2 separate regions of the Homo sapiens genome follow, and region 1 is linked to region 2. Evidence: fine-mapped expression QTL. A gene starts in region 2. The other region holds a variant in brackets. All regions are shown on one strand. Distances are from middle to middle.

Evidence for each region. PIP is the estimated chance that this variant, and not a neighbour inherited with it, causes the effect. A credible set is the group of variants that fine-mapping cannot tell apart.
Region 1: its variant is the best candidate, but not a certain one, in a credible set for the expression of IRS2 in whole blood (INTERVAL, PIP 0.58).

The regions. Positions count from the first base shown.
Region 1 is chr13:110,160,179-110,165,545 of GRCh38, forward strand. COL4A1 (collagen type IV alpha 1 chain) reads right to left here. Exons shown (of 52, transcript NM_001845.6): 46 at 4,684-4,812; 47 at 3,285-3,383; 48 at 2,052-2,264; 49 at 1,014-1,191. Among named protein-coding and RNA genes, the nearest start is that of LINC03082, 34 kb to the left of the region's middle. The variant A/G (reference allele first, on the strand shown) is at 2,398.
Region 2 is chr13:109,784,145-109,789,487 of GRCh38, forward strand. It overlaps IRS2 (insulin receptor substrate 2), which reads right to left and starts at 2,439. Exons shown (of 2, transcript NM_003749.3): 1 at 1-2,439. The coding sequence starts at 1,909. LOC124903211 (WAS/WASL-interacting protein family member 1-like) reads left to right here and starts at 2,940. Exons shown (of 2, transcript XM_047430835.1): 1 at 2,940-3,301; 2 at 3,456-5,343. The coding sequence starts at 2,949. The coding sequence ends at 3,693. RefSeq lists an enhancer at 946-1,575 and silencers at 2,417-2,646, 2,667-2,836.

The DNA.
Region 1 (5,367 bases), 380 kb after region 2:
ACGCCTGTAATCCCAGCACTTTGGGAGGCCGAGGCGGGTGGATCATGAGGTCAGGAGATCGAGACCATCCTGGCTAACAAGGTGAAACCCCGTCTCTACTAAAAATACAAAAAATTAGCCGGGCGCGGTGGCGGGCGCCTGTAGTCCCAGCTACTCGGGAGGCTGAGGCAGGAGAATGGCGTGAACCCCGGGAAGCGGAGCTTGCAGTGAGCCGAGATTGCGCCACTGCAGTCCGCAGTCCGGCCTGGGTGACAGAGCGAGACTCCGTCTCAAAAAAAAAAAAAAAAATTCATAGGGGCAGGGATGATTCAGAAAACAATGTCTTAAAAGGCTCCTTGGGGAAGCTGTTACTTTTTAAAAAGAAAGATTGAGCAACACTGTTCCAACGCTTGCTGAAGAATCGAGTGGCATCACCTTGCTCACAGGAGGAAAGGCAACCACCACAGTGAGTCAGGCAAAATATAAATTATCTCTGCAAGCCTGGCATTATCTCACCATGGTTTTGCACCACAATTTTAAAAGAGAATAGCTGACTCTTTTTTCTTTTTGAGACAGGTTCTCACTCTGTTGCTCAGGCAGGAGTGCAGTGGTGTGGTCTCAGTTCACTACAGCCTCAACATCCCAGGCTTAAGTGATCCTCCCACCTCAGCCTCCCTCGTAGCTGGGACCACAGGCTCACACCACCACGCCCAGCTAACTTTTGTATTTTTTGTGGAGATGAAGTCTCGTCATCTTGCCCAGGCTGGTCTTGAACTCCTGAGCTCAAGCAACCCTCTCGCCTCGGCTTCCCAAAGTGTTGGGATTACGGGCATGAGCCACTGTGCCCAGCCAACTGACTTTTATGTCAAATAATTTTTATGGTAGATTTCCATTACAAAACTCGAATATCACAAATAATAAGCTAAATGGCAATGGATTCAACGTTTTGGAGAAAAATAGAAAACATATGCTTGTCCAGACTAGAGACTTTTCCTCTTCAATTTTGCATTTGTTCCTACAGATGCTCGACTCACCTACTAATAAATGGTCTTATGTTTTCCCCCGTGATGGGTGCCATTGACATGGGCATGGGCTCAGGGGTGGACAGCCAGTACGAGTAGTCATTTCGTGATGCAAAGTTGCACACGTTGTTAATATTGCAGAACAGGAAGGGCATTGTGCTGAACTTGCGCAGGCAGCTGCCGGCCGTGCCTAGACAAGGAAGAAGACAATGTGAGATGTTTCCTTTATAATTCACAATCTATCTCTATGTAAAGTGGATTTCAGCTGGACAACAAGCAAAAACATATAATCAACATAATCACTGAAATGGAAATGTATAAAGGATTATGTAGGACATTTTTGATGAAAGGAAACAAAACCAGTTTACCAGCACAAAGAAACCTTTTCCTAAAGCTGAATTCTAGAAGGAACTTAACACATGGTTCGTTATACGATGGATAGTAACAAATTGGGCAATGTCTTTCACAACAGTTTTGCAGAAAATGCAGATGCTCTTTCTATAGCAGCTTGCTGATTCTAACCCTGATAAAAGTTAAAGGCAGAGAAAATTAAAACACAGTTTGGTGGAGGATATCTGGGTCAGATTAAGATAATGAGGACAGATATGTAGCTTTCTGCTGATCTAAACTAGAGGAGCAGAGCTCAGCAGCTGTAGAGAATTTCAGACAGGATAACATGGACCTTTTTTTTTACAAAGAGCAATGGTTAAGCCGCATCAATGCAAATTGTTAAGTGCACTCCAGGAATCTTGATCCTACTTGATAATTTGAAGATGAGATCTAAAGTTTTATTAATTTAAAGATTTTCGAAGATTCAGTCTCCACATTTCTTGGCTTGCCATTAGTAATACAGCAGCTGTTGAACCGATTATTTGTAATCAATGGAGGGAAATGGGGCCGGGCTGCTTTTTCACTGGCTACCGCCCTCATGGCGCAGTGTTTCACTCGCTACTGCCCTCACTGCAGCAGCAGAGGCGAGTCCAGCACTGCACACCGAAGGCACTCAACACACCTACACTGAATGAATGCATGGATCTGCAGGCTTCTTACCCAAGTCCTGGCCATGGGCCCGTTCATTGCCTTGCACGTAGAGCAAAGAGTACCCGTGGTAAAGAATTTTGGTCCCAGAAGGACACTGTGGGTCATCTATTGTTTGACTATGCCTGGTCACAAGGAAGCCGTGATCAACAGATGGGGTGCCTGGGGGCCCCATGGATCCTGGCAACCCATCGGGGCCTGGTGGACCTGGAAATCCTCTTGGACCTGGAAGATAGGAGACAAATTAGTTTCCCTAATTACAAACACGCTCCCCTAAAGGCTTTCAAAATCATTTTCTCCAAAGAGTTTTTAATATTTTATATTTCCACAAAGTATCCTACCTATTCATGTTACCAAA[A/G]AAGTCTAAAAAGAATGCATGGCTAACTAAATACAGCAGCCTACCTCCTTCATGGTGTCTTAACTTTTTCTTTTTACCTGCCACCTCAAGATATTTTTATAAGCACAGTTCTCGGTGCAGAGCAGATGCTTGAACAATTTAGTTCAATGAATATATGACACATATGAAAATGGATATATGAATAAATGAAAATAAATGAATGACGTGACTCTGTGCATGTCATTCACACGGAATCGTGGGGCTCCTGTTGGGGAGGACTATCATAGAATTATTAAACAACCTCATCTTAAGGTGTTTCTTCCTCCATAGCAGCCCAAAGCCTGCGTATGGAAATGGAGCAGTAAGGGACCTCGCAGGCAAGGCCTGCTTCTGTCCCCTCTCTAACTGTGCCACGTGCCAAACTGTGCCCAGGTCTGCTGGGCTGAGCTCTTTGTTCAATTAGTCAGTGGCCTCAGCCTTTTGCATCATAGCCTTCACCGGACACTCGAGTGTGCCTTCTCCTAAGGAAGCAGATCAAGTTCATCCCATGCCTTTGGGCCAATGCTGGCATTATTTTCATTTCTACTTCCCTTGTCCTTTGCTGAAATAGAATTTTCACAGCTGCAGCTCACATCCCACTTAGGAAACCACATGGGCCACCACTATTGGCTGCCTTTCAACAACATCTGGGAAACGTACACTTTGATCAATATCTGTCTCTACACAGAAAAAAGAACACTTCTTCAGCTCTTCTATTTGATTCTATTTCTTCTAAGAAACAGACTTCTTCGGAAATCTGTCAAGTGATATATCCAACTTCATTCTGCTGTTTCCCCATGCCTGGTTCTGCTCCTTCTATCCCAAAGATCCTGGTCAAGGGTAATTACGTTGGAAGTTTCGCAACCTACCAGTAGGCCCGGCAGGTCCCATCTCTCCTTTCTGGCCAGGGGCACCGTCAAACCCAGGAATACCTGGAGGTCCAGGTATACCCACCAATCCTGTAACACCTGAGGCAGAGGAAAAATAATTTATGATCCTGTATGGCAGTAAGCTGTATCTCTTTCTTCCCTTCTTAAATGTCCTTTTCAGTGTTCAAGGAGCCAAGCATAAAGTCTCACTGCAGATGAGAACGTTTTCTCGGACAGCCAGGAGTTGCTTCCCACAAAGTCGAGTACAGACTTTGCAGAAGCAGCTGGATATTCATAAGGGGGTGTGTGTTTGGGCACCTCGTTCTGAGTTCTCCCTGGTTTCTTGCTGTTTGGCAGATTGGTTTGGAAAAGGCAGGTGATGTGGAGGGAATGAGAGACTGGATAACTTTCCCTCTCAGCCATATACTGGGGTCTCAATTTTTAGGCAACAGATATACCAACATGGATAGTTTTTTTGTTTTCATGTACATAGCTTGTTCTTCTTCTTTCTTTCTCTCTCTCTTTTTTTTTTTTTTTTTTTTTTGAGACAGGGTCTCGCTCTGTCACCCAGGCTGGAGTGCAGTGGTGTGACCACCGCTCACTGCAGCCTCGACCTCCCGGGCTCAAGCGATTCTCCTACCTCAGCCTCTCGAGTAGCTGGGACTACAGGTATGCACTACCACACCTGGCTAATTTTATCATTATTATTTTGTAGAGACAGACTCTCCCTATGTTGCCCAGGCTGGTCTTGAACTCCTGGGCTCAAGTGATCCTCCCACCTCAGCCTCCCAAAAAGCCGGCATTACATAGGTGTGACCCAGTGAGCCTGGCTAGCTTATTCTTAAGTATCATTAAATTTTCTTTGATGCTTTCAACTTTAAAATGTTTTCATTCTCCTTTACTTCCCACCCACTCCTTATCAGTAGCTCTTCAAATAGGAGATGTTTCACTCAAATAAGCAGAAGACTATGTTAGGGTTTCAGGAAATAACAGAGAATTGTACAGACAGTGCCAATCAGGCAGCGCTCCTGGGGGCATGGATGGAGAGCACCGATTTTTACCATTCCAGATTGCTACATGCCACCCCCATCTGGAGCGGGAGGCAGGAGGGGGAAAGGTAATGATCTGGTTCTTTGAGCCCATGTTTTTCTAACTGAACACAGATGTGTTGTTATGTGTTCCTCTAGCTTTTCCTGGGTTTTCTTCTGGATTTTTTTTAGGTCCCTTTAAAAATGTCATAGGTTTTGATATGCATTGAAGGGAGGTAAGAAACTCATATTCATATGTGTGTGTATAATCATTACCCAGAAACTTATTTTAGATACATGGGTGAGGAGGAACTCTGACCACTGCCCCTCTGGGCTCCCCATACCGCCCTGCACAGGCCAAGCCTTCTCACCTTGCTGGCCTTTCGGGCCTGGCAGTCCCTGAAGCCCTTTCAGCCCTGGGGGGCCCTCAGGACCAGGGAGCCCGGGCTCCCCTTTGATGATGTCGTAAGGACCTGGGGGGCCAGGAGGACCCGGGAGACCTGTGGGAATAGGGAAGGCATTGATCAATTTCACTGTCCACATACTGGGGCGGAAACAACTTTAGAAGGAGAATCCCGGGTGAAGCTATCCAAATGGAACGTACTTCTCAAAGGTAAAGTCATTATCAAAACCCAGGTAATCAGATCTTCACAAAACATGTCCAATCTGCACATCTTTATTATTTAACCTGAAATCCTGAACTCTCGGGCAAAGGCATTGGGGCATCAGCGTAACTTCCCACTGCATTCTGGGCTCTGGGACCCCTGACAACTGCCCTGCAGCCTCATGCCAGCCCTCCCAGCAGGGAGAGAAGCTTGTTCTTCCCAAGCAGCCCCCGCTTCTGACGTGGAGAGTGCCACTCTGCGATTAGGACATTTTTCCCACACTCATCTGAAACCTGCCTTACTGTATAGTATCACACTGGTCCTGATCTTTGAGTGACGAATGAACTTAATCCTTCTTCTGCATGGCAAGTCTTGGCATGTGGTAAGAACCACACAAAGTGCGAGTTCCCCTCAGCCTCCCCGTTTTCAGCCCAATACCCTCAACTCTCC
Region 2 (5,343 bases):
TCTCGATGTCTCCGTAGTCCTCTGGGTAGGGGTGGTAGGCCACCTTGGGAGAGGACGCGGGGCAGGACGGGCAGAGGCGGCCCGCGCTGCCCGAGAAGGTGGCCCGCATCAGGGTGTATTCATCCAGCGAGGCAGAGGAGGGCTGGGGCACCGGCCGCTGCCGGGCTGGCGTGGTCAGGGAGTAGGTCCTCTTGCGCAGCCCTCGGTCCAGGTCCTGGGCCGCGTCCCCCGAGACCCGGCGGTAGGAGCGGCCACAGTGGCTCAGGGGCCTGTCCATGGTCATGTACCCGTAGAACTCACCGCCGCCGCCGCCGTCTCGGGCCGGGGGCGTCTCCGCGATGGACTCGGGCGTGTTGCTTCGGTGGCTGCAGAAGGCGCGCAGGTCGCCTGGGCTGGAGCCGTACTCGTCCAGGGACATGAAGCCGGGGTCGCTGGGGGAGCCCGAGGCGGAGGCGCTGCCGCTGGAGGGCCGCTGGCCGGGGCCGTGGTGCAGCGGATGCGGCAGAGGCGGGTGCGGGCCGGGCGGCGGCGGGTAGGAGCCCGAGCCGTGGCCGCTGCTGGACGACAGGGAGCCGGGGCTGGTGGCGGCGGGCGGCGAGTGCGCCACGGGCATGGACATGGAGCGGCTGTGTTGCAGCGCGCCCCCTGCCGGCAGCAGCGCCACCTTGCTCCCGCGGCCGCCGCAGCCGCCGCTCAGGGTGTGCGAGCGGCTCAGGGGCGCGCGCACCGGCCCGGGGCTCAGGGGGCTCCCAGCCACCGACACCGGCCTGGCGCCCGCGGCCGCCGCTCCCGCCGCCGCGCCGCCGTCGCCCTCGCTGGCGGTGCGCACCCGGCACGAGCTGCACTTGGCCGCCGGCGGGGTGGCGGCCAGGCTGTCGGTGCGCGAGCGGCGCACCAGGCCCGTCTGGCTGGGGGGCAGGTTGACCAGGTGGTGGTGGCGGCGCGCGCCGGGGACGCTGATGGGGTGCGTGGCCGACGACCCCGACGATTGGCTCTTACTGCGCGGCCGGAACTCGAAGAGCTCCTTGAGCGCCTTCATGGCCTCCAGGATGGTCTCGTGGATGTTCTGCGCCACCACCGAGTCGTCCGCCTGCATCCACAGCTCGCCGGGGCCTGTGACGGCCGAGCGGCCCACCTCGATGAAGAAGAAGCTGTCCGAGTGGCCGCAGCGGCGGATGTTCATGAGCTGCAGCGTCACCGACGGCTGCTCGCAGTTGAGCTTCACGAAGCCGATGGTGCGCGCAGACAGGCACAGACGGTACACCCCCGTCAGGTTCTTGCTCTGGCCCAGACCCTTGGGCTTCAGGTTCACCTGCCACACCTCACGGTAGGCGGCCGTGGCGGGAGCCACCAGCCCGTAGCTGTCCTCGGCCCCGGCGGCGCCGGCAGAGCCGCCCAGGGCGCCGGGCAGGGAGGCGCTGCAGGACGCGGCGGGCGCGGCGGCGGGGGGCGCGTCTCCGGCGGCCGCGCGGCCCTCGCTGACCAGGTCGGTGAGCGCGCGGTACCAGCCCTCCTGCTCCTGCTCGTTCTCGGCGGCCACGGCGAAGTACTCGTCCTTGGTGTAGAGGGCGATCAGGTACTTGTGCTTGGCGTCGGCGCGCTTGTTGATGTTCAGGCAGCAGTCGAGAGCGATCACCCGTTTCGGCGCGCCTGCCTTGCTCCGCCACTTTTTCTCGCTCTCGTAGTACTCGAGCCGCGGCGGTTGCGGCGCCGACCCCCCGCCCGCCGTCGCCTCGTCGCCGCCCGCGCCGGGTCCGCGCAGCACGAAGAAGCGCTTGTGGCCATGCTTCTGCTTGCGCAGGTAGCCGCACTTGCGCACGCTGTGGTTGTTGTTGTTGTTGTTGTTGTTGAGGTTGGGGCCGTCTCCGCTCGCCGGCCCGGGCGGCCCGTGCCGCGGCGGGCTCGCCATCGCGGGCGCTTCAGGCCGCGCGGCCCGGGCCCGGCGCCCAGGGGTTGGGGCGAGGGGCGGAGGGGGCGCGGGCGGGGGCGGCTCCCTCCCACCCTTGCGCCCGGCCGCCCGCCCGATCACGCGTCCCTCGGGCCCAGGCGGTGGGGAAGGTCCGGGGAGGCCCGCGGGGGCCAGCACCGCTCGGCGGCGCCGCGCCCTCCGCGCTCTGGGGCTCCTGAGGATGCCCGGCGCGGGCGGTGGCCGCCCCCCTCCCCGGCTGCCTGCGGCCGCTGCCTCCTCGGGCTCTCGGGCGGCGCCGGGGGACGCGCTCGCTGGGCCGGGAGTCGGGGTCCCCGAGCCGCGGGGCCGAGCCTAAGGCGCGCGCGGCCGCACCGGGGCTGCTGCCGCCGCGTCGCGCTCCGGGAAGCCGGGGTGCGCCCGGGCGCTCGGGGTCCGCGCCGCCGCCGGGGCTGCTGCTGCTGCTGGTGTTGCTGCTGCTGCTGCCAACGGCGACCCGGGCTCGTCGCGGTCCCCGCCGCACAGTGAGTAACACATCGCGCACCGAGTGACTGAACTAAGAAGAGCAAAACAACATGTGACTCGGCGTTACGCAGGCACACACAGCGCGGCCGCCCCGCCCCGCTGCCTCGCATTGGCGCCGCGCCCCCCGACGGACGGCGCGCTCGGCCAATCGGCGCGGCGCTCGCGGGGGCGGGCCGCGCGCCCCCGCCCCGCCCCCCTTTCTCCCCGGGCCGCGTTTCCCGCCGTCCCCTCCCCCTCCCGCGAAGGCCCCGGCCCGGCCGGGCGGGGTGGGGCGGCCCCGGCCTCATTAATCAGCGGCTTGTTGTGGATGCCGGCGGAGGAGATGCCACCCAGGGCGGGAAAAGGGGCGCGGAAGAGGGGCGGGGCGGGCCACGGCGCGCAGGGCCCTTCCCTCCCGCCTCGGACTCAATTAATTGGGCTTGAGCTTCCGCCGGGGAGGGGGCGCCGGGCGGGGCCGCGGCTGGGCGGGGCGGGGGATCGGGATCGGCGGCGGGGGCTGCGGCCTTGCAGTGGAAGCATGGGCGGCGAGCCGGGCCGTGCTCTCGGGGCGCGGGGTCCCCATTTTGGGCGAGGGCGGCCGCTCCCGCGCTCGGGGTGGGCGCGCCCCATCCCCGTCCCCCGTTTCCCGTCCCCGTCTCCCGGCCGCATCTCCGTCCCCCCGCAGCCGCGAAACGCGGGGAGGTTCCAGGGCCCGCGGCCGCGGGTTCGCGAGCACCGCGCTCCAGATCGAGAGCGGCGCGCGCCCTTCCGTGGAGGACAGAGGGGCGCGGAGGGGGCGCCTGTGTCCCACCCGCTCGCGGGCGCTTTACGGGGCGTCCTCTGCGCCATTCACTTGTCAGCTTGTCGGGAAGTTGAAATCGCGTTTGGGAGGTAATAGGAGAAAGAGATCGGGGACGGCAGGCGGAGAAAGTGCGGTTTCCATAGCGCCGGGGAGAGGGCGGACCCGCGAGCCAGCGGTCCCTGAGCCGGGAGACCGCGCGGGCGTCTCTCCAGCCCCCGCAGGAGCGCCGCCTTCCTTCCGCAGGGGCGTCCTCTCCCCCCACCGCTGCAGGAGCACCCCCTTCCTTCCTCGGAAGCGTCCTCTCACCACACCGCTTCAAGAGCCCCCCCTTCCTTCCACAGGGGCGTCCTTTCCCCCTCCGAGGCAGGAGCGCCCCTTTTCCCCCCACAGGAGCGCCCTCCCCACCCCAGGAGCGCCCTGCGCCCAGCAGACGGGCAGGTGGGCGGGCGTCCACTACCTGTGTGCGCGGTGCGGGCGGTGACTGCCAAGTTGGAGATGCCCTTGGAGAACTGCTTCGAATTCATGTATCTACTGGGCTTTTGTGACTTTCAAAGCCTATAGCAAATAAGCACCCCTGCAATTACGTCTCCTCAATGACCAAGTCAGGGTGAGGTGAGGGCTTCCTGAGTTCAGATCCCAGCAAGCTCCCGATCCTGCGCAACGAAGAAAACTCAACAAAACAGGCTTTGGCTGTTTATTTTATTTTTTTTTTAATTGTGCCTTCATGAAATAATTTACAGCAATAATTTATCTTATAATATTGGTTATTGTTTTTAAGTCCCGGATGTTTACTTTTGGATGTCCTCTATAATTCATAGAAGTATCTTAAAAGTAATAAAATCTTAATCTAAGAGAAAATAAGTGTAATTTTTGAAAGAGTGATATATATTTTAATATGTTTTTGTAACATGTGACTTGAAGATTGTGTTGGCTAATTTTATGTGCCAAGAGAGCCCTGACTAGTACAAAGATTATAGCGTTTTTATTTTTAGCATGTATACAGTTAGGATTATTGATCAGTAGCCTGAATTTGGGAAGAATAATCATTGTGGCAAATATCACCCAGTGTGCCTCAAAAAGGTGTGTTTAAAGTTGATCTTCCATTTTTAAATCATACCTTAAAAAAAAATACCTCAAGAAATGCCATTTTAAGTCTGTGCACCTATGTGTGCATGTGTGCGTGTTTGTTTATATAATAGATTGTGTGATTGTGTGTGTATAGGTATGTGTGTATGATTGTGTGTGTTGGGGGCGCCACCTTTATGAACATTATGCTTCGGCGTTCTTTTTAGATCTTGTTACCTTTTCTTACGTTCACAAATGTTGCCTAGCAATATGTCTAGTCAGGAAAGATGAAGGGATTCTTATCTTGGTGCTTGAAGAAAATGTGGTGTAGTTTTATTGGCTTTGTGATCACTTACATCCCACTTTTATGAGGATGTAAATGGGCCACCTCTATGTTCCTGTATGTTGCCAGCCATCAGTAGACAATGCTAAAGGAACCACCACTTTTAAACATCATGTGATGGTTTCTTCTGAGAAAGTATATTTTGCAATCTTTTTCTTTTTCATGTTGACTTTTATTATGCAGTTGCATTTTCATATCCGTATTGAACATTTACTTGCTGTGCCTGTCACACGCTAGCAGGTGTCATCTTTTCCTGTTTGCTTGTTTCTTGGGGCCATCCTAGTGTTAAAGGCCAGTGTTTTTAAGGTGTCAGCAGCTCTGGATTGGCAGTTAGCACTTTCCCCATGTACTGCCTCAGTTACCAGACTGGGGACAAAAGAGAGAAGGTTAAAGAATTATCACCTATGTCCGTGGTATTCTGTCATAGAGAGTATAAATTTCCTACAGCAAACTGGAAATTAATTGCAATTCTGCAGTTAGAACCTCCAAATACAAATGTGGATGATACAATTTCAATTCTCATTGAGAGTCAGCCCATGAAACAAACCAACAGTAAGAAACTCTGTAATTAGAAGTATCCCAGTCCTCTTCCTCAACCGAGGAACTTGTTTTCTTTCCCCCTTTCTATTGCCAGATAAGCTATTTATTTATTTAAAGCTTGTTCTACACCTTGTGATTTTCCAACTGTTCTTCCATACTTTTTCAACAAAAGTCAGCTAATAA